Linked DNA regions of Homo sapiens: region 2 is linked to region 1. Evidence: fine-mapped expression QTL. A gene starts in region 1. The other region holds a variant in brackets. All regions are shown on one strand. Distances are from middle to middle. Region 1 holds the start of FLRT3 (fibronectin leucine rich transmembrane protein 3). Region 2 overlaps MACROD2 (mono-ADP ribosylhydrolase 2).

What was found. PIP is the estimated chance that this variant, and not a neighbour inherited with it, causes the effect.
Region 2: its variant is the best candidate, but not a certain one, in a credible set for the expression of FLRT3 in liver (GTEx, PIP 0.52).

The regions. Positions count from the first base shown.
Region 1 is chr20:14,335,824-14,338,751 of GRCh38, forward strand. FLRT3 (fibronectin leucine rich transmembrane protein 3) reads right to left here and starts at 1,789. Exons shown (of 3, transcript NM_198391.3): 1 at 1,581-1,789. The region is part of intron 3 of MACROD2 (mono-ADP ribosylhydrolase 2); the gene reads left to right.
Region 2 is chr20:14,699,558-14,702,485 of GRCh38, forward strand. The region is part of intron 5 of MACROD2 (mono-ADP ribosylhydrolase 2); the gene reads left to right. Among named protein-coding and RNA genes, the nearest start is that of MACROD2-IT1, 150 kb to the left of the region's middle. The variant G/C (reference allele first, on the strand shown) is at 1,598.

The DNA of each region.
Region 1 (2,928 bases):
ACTCTGTTTTTATTTCAGGGTAATAAATAGATGTGCGTTTGTCTGTGTGTATATATATGTGTCCAAACTAAGGGGCATATCTCTGATTTAATTTTCCCATGGTAAAACCTGGCATATTATCATTAATATTTGTAGTAGTTGGTAATGTTGATATTATTGATTGTGGCACTTTTAAAGGATTAATTTTTCTTTACTCATTTCGGAAGAGATGAATATTAGTCATCTGTCACTTTGGGTCAGGTATAAGTGATTCTCCCTGAATATAAGCAAATTTATTCTTTATGTTTAGGCTGGTCAGGATATTTTTATGCAGTCAGAGATAAATGAAAGGCATTGCTACAGCTGAAGGACTTTTCTAGTGGCTTTATTTATGTTGTTTCTGGATAATAAAATAACATAGATGAGCATTTTAGACAGATTTATTAATAGACAGATTTATTAAGAATGTTTAAAATAGCCTTATTATTAAAACCATTAGAGATTTTGGACTAAAAATTGAAAAAAAAATCAATTTTTTTTCTTTTAAATTCTAAATAAAATAATAAAAACAAACCCCCCAGATGTTGAGAAGACATGGATGGGCCTGTTGCACTCTTTACCTATATGCAACCATTTTGTTTCAGACCTAATTCAGTGAACAAAATTTTTTGAGAAGATACATTTAACTACTTTTTCAAGCTTTGTAGTATAAATGCATTTCTTCCAATATAAGATTTTCCTATTATAAGTTGCAAAGAATGGATCCTCTGCAAAACCCACTTGATAAGGGCTCTACTCATTTATTTTTCTTTCCTGCTACCCCAAACTCACTGCATACATCAGGCATAGCTTCCAGGGTGAGCTTTGTTAGTTTTTCTGAGTAGACTTAGCCATTTACTATGCTAGTCACATACTTCACTTGCCTAAGCAATGGATTTTGGTGTTCTATTGAAGAGGGAATATGGTTTGGAAGAGTGTCTCCCCCTCCTCTGAGTTCAATTTACTAGTTGAGATTTGCAAGCCTGAAATGCTTGAAGCAGCTCAGGCACGATAGCAGTGCAAGCTTTAAAATCTAGGTGTAGCTGTTAATCCTTTACAGAGGCACATAAGTCTCCAGGAGTAGCTCGGCTAGCTGTGAGCAAGATGTATGCTTTTCATGTACTGCGTACTCATGGGCTGAGGGATTATTGATTTTCTTTCACAGTTGTAAAAACAGCAATTGGTGATCATCCCACACGTACAGTACACACCAAGTTGCTTTCCTATCTGTGAAGAATCTCCTTGTATTCTTTAATATTTAACATTGAACTTTCCAACTTGCTGTTTTCCATAAGGCTCTTTTCACATAGCAATTACTCAAGACAGAAAATAGCCACTTACTATCTTTTATAAATGAAAGAAGGTTCTAAGAAACTTCTTACATTCAGCCATGATAGTGAAATTTTTCATTGCTGGCTTGCACGCACATATATTGCTTGTTGTGGTGACAGAGCAAACGTTCCTATTTGGATTTCTCATAGTATCAAGTCGTTTCTTTCTAGAGAGTAAAACCAAGCAAACTTTCTGGGACAATCATAAGAAAAAACATGGAAAACACTTACCAGGAAGACGAGAAAAAGCAATCCTATATACACTGCCGCTATAGCTGTAATTCCATTGACAGTGAATTGGAGTAATAGCCCTCCCCCGTCTCCCAAGCTCTGCGTCCAGTCCACACAAAGCCCACGGCAGCTGCAGGCTGAGCTTGTCCTGCTTCAGATCACTCCTACACTGAGGAGTGAGCGAGGGAGAGCATTCCAGTTTACTGCACACAGCCCACCTCCAAGTCTGAAGTTTAAAGCTTCACCTCGCAGTGGCTGAAGAAGGGGGTGATGTCATAGATGGGCAGGACTTAGCCAAGATCTTGTTCAGTGAGGTAACTGGATAATCAGACAGATGAGCTTTGCAAACGCTAGAGGGGGCGAGAGCAGCCAAAATGAAGCATCAGCCTGCCAAAGCTAGGATGCCATTTGGTTTGTAGGCAGCCCTTTGGAATCTCAACATTTTCTAAAGTTTACTACAAGGCAGTGGTAGCATACTTATGTATTTTTTTTAAAAAGCATGTTAGAAAGATATTTTTAAGATCACAATAGAAAAAGACAGGCTTTGTCTTATTTTTAAACCATCTGTATTGAAAAGAAGTTAACCAAAATCAAATTAGTTTTATTATTCACTAGCTAAAATAATGTTATAATTGTGGAAGATGTATGCCAGTAATCCCAACTGTGAATGTTTATTCAACATATGAATAAACAGCAGATTCAAATATATACATCAGGGCTGGGTGTGGTGGCTCACGCCTCTAATTCCGGCACTTTGGGAGGCCGAGGTGGGAGGATCACCTGAGGTCAGGAGTTCGAGACCAGCCTGACCAACATGTAGAAAAAATTAGCTGGGCGCCCGTAATCCCAGCTGTTTGGGAGGCTGAGGCAGGAGAATCACTTGAACCCGGGAGGCAGAGGTTGCAGTGAGCCAAGATTGCACCATTGCACTCCAGCCTGGGCAACAAGAACGAAACTCCATCTCCAATATATGTATATATATACACGTGTCACTGATTCATTTAGTTATGGGAAGGGCAATAGGAATGCCAAAAGATTTTTTTAAATGGTATTAAATGGTCTGTTCTTTTGGAGGCGAAGAAGTTACTGTTCTCTATGTTTTAGAAAATGAAAGTATGTTTTATGTACTTCTGCTACGTGTTTATATTATTTAAAATGGATTATTTATATTTAACGATCCCCCAATAAAATGTTTTTAAAAAATTTAATAGAATATTTTCCTTTCTAAATGTTTTTGCTGATCTGAGCATGGGTTTAGATATAAACATCTTAAGAAAAAAATCTTTCAGGGTGGTTTGCCTGGATTGAAATTATTTTAGTTTAATTTAGGTACATGAATAAACACTGG
Region 2 (2,928 bases), 360 kb after region 1:
ATAGCATGATAGTCAGGGAGATAATATTAATTTTACAGAAATAGAATCTTATTTTATTACAAGGAAGGCCGTCAGTCTCACAACTTGCACTCTATTTGTGAAGAAATATTCTTAAGCATATATTCCAGTAATATGTAGTTTAATACCTATGTGAAAACTAATTTCTTTTCCTCAAGCATCAACTTTTATCACAGAACTTTAAATCTAGAAGTTTAAAGTTTAAACTTTTTAAATCTAGAAGTTTAAAGTTTAAACTTTTTAAATCTAGAAGTTTAAAGTTTAAACTTTTTAAATCTAGAAGTTTAAAGTTTAAACTTTTTAAATCCAGAAGTTTAAAGTTTAAACTTTTTAAATCTAGAAGTTTAAAGTTTAAACTTTTTAAATCTAGAAGTTTAAAGTTTAAACTTTTTAAATCTAGAAGTTTAAAGTTTAAAGTTTAAATCTAGAAGTTTAAAGTTTAAATCTAGAAGTTTAAAGTTTAAAGTTTAAATCTAGAAGTTTAAAGTTTAAATCTAGAAATTTAAAGTTTAAATCTAGAAGTTTAAAGTTTAAATTTTAAATCTAGAAGTTTAAAGTTTAACTTCTCCTTATATTAAAGGAGCAGTATGAATATTCTTTGAGAGATGAACTTTAACCATATTTTGTGTGTGTGTCTCTGTGTGTAATATATACCTATAGACCATAGTCTGGGGAAAACTCATTTTTCACTTCTTCTTTTCATGCAAGATCTTAGGTGCTGTATTTTGCAACGTGCCGTGTAGCATTACATTTCATGATATTATAAGCTGAGTTTTATAGAACTGTTTCAAAAATTTTCATTATGGACCTTTTATATCATAATTGAGTATCTAGCAAAAGGTAAAAAAAAGTTCCACTTATGAAGCTGAATATCAATCACTCAACTATTCAGTTATGCTTAGGCATAGATGAGTAAGCTTGTTCTTTGACAGTTAAGACATATGGTGGTGTGTGTGTGTGTGTGTGTGTGTGTGTGTGTGTGTAATAGATGTGCCAGATAACTAAAATCTTTGCTTAGTACTTTGAGGGAAAAAGAGATTCGTGATGAGTGCATTTATTTTATTCCATTCTATCCACATTTTGTATAAAATCCATTTAAACAGGGGAACTAAATTGCTTACAGTAGTAAAATGCATTTCCCTCTGTGAATGTTGGTGCCTTTATGATGCATGCTGATTTGGACTCTGACACAGTCATAATCTACATACCAAACATAGGCATTTTGCTTTCAAAACAGAAACTGGCACTGCTAGAGCTGTAGGAGTGAGCTGGCTCACCAGAGTAATCTCTCCTTCTTGGAGAGATTTGGCTTATTGTTGATGGCCTGAAGTCCACTGTCTTGGACCTCAGAGTGGGCTTTCCAGTTTGTAGTAATGGGTTCTGTAGCATGCCAAGACTATAGAGACCCCCGAATTCATCTCTTTTATTTCCCTTCTATGAGGGAATTCCTGTGGTCATAAGGCCTGCAGCTTAACAGATGAGCAGAAAATGTGCTGAAACATTGGTGCTTAAAAATATACAAAATATAAGTGGGAATCAGTGTCTTTAGCTTTATCTTTGCAATGGGCAAAACAGAAAT[G/C]ACTCAAAAGTGATTTCTTTAGTTATGGAGCACTCAGGTTTCTCTTCTGCCTTTTGTATTTCCATATGTCACTGCTATCTATATTCTGTAGATACTCTACCTGTGACATTCTGGGATTATAAATATGTGAGTTGCATGCTTATTCACTTTCTCCCACCTTTTCATTCTATCCTGAGTAGTCTAAACTGAAAGCTTTTGAAAGCCTTGCATGTTTTCCACATCAACCCTTGAACATTTATACTTCTAAAAAAGGATGCTGGACTCTCTTGATAACTCTGTCCTTCAAGTTTGCCTCATCGGTGATGCCACTTGACTGAAAGTCCTCTTGGTAATCCAGTAATTAAATCCTTCTAGCTGAGGCCCAAGAGAGATCCCTCTGCTGAATTGCACTGCACAGTAAATGACATTATAATGAGGTTTTAACTTATTAGTTAAATGAATGAATGGAAACTTTGCTGCTGCAATTCATTAGATTTTTACGTTATAAACCAGGACTTGCTGCTGCAGATGAGAGTCCGTGCAATTTTCCCTTCGTATAATTAATTATCATATCAGTGTATTAAAGATAGTTTCACTAAAAGGAGAAATACCCTTGTATAGAAAGTCTAAGACAGTCTAACAAAACATGGTGATCACTTCTGTATGTCCCTGAGCTTGGTGTGATAGGCACTGTTCAGATACTTCTGCAATATTATCAAATTTTAATCCTCAAAACAACCCTCTGTGATAGTTACTGTTATTATTCCTATTATATATGAGGAAAATCAGGCACAGAGAGGTTAAACAACTTTCCTAAGATCTCATAGCTAGTAAGGGTAGAGCAAGGATTCAAACTCAGGCAGTCTCTCTCTATAGCTCTGCACTTATAAATAAGATTTCCTCTCATCCCTAGACATGAACATGAAGATTTGCTTATATATAAATTCATCTTATTGATATGTTTCTTTTGAATTTCTTCCCCTTTTTCTAATGAAAACTGATGATGCTATTTAGAAAGCTTTATTTTTTTTTACCTAAAATGTTTAATCTCAGAAAAGTACTGAGAAAAATAACAGTACTCATGCATTACCCACCAAGAATTTTAAACATATTAACATTTTGCCTCTTTATTTCTACTTTTTGTTTTTAAAATAAAATAACCAGTTATTTCTGACAAATTCTTCTTTTCAGTCTCATTCTTTCCTTCCCCTCTTTCCATTCCTTGTCCAGAGCAACCCACTCTTAAGAGCAGAATGTAAATCCTTCCAGACTGTGTTCTTATATTTCTACCAGAAGCACGGAAATAGCCATAATCCATATACATGGTATTGTGTTTTTAACTGTACACAAAT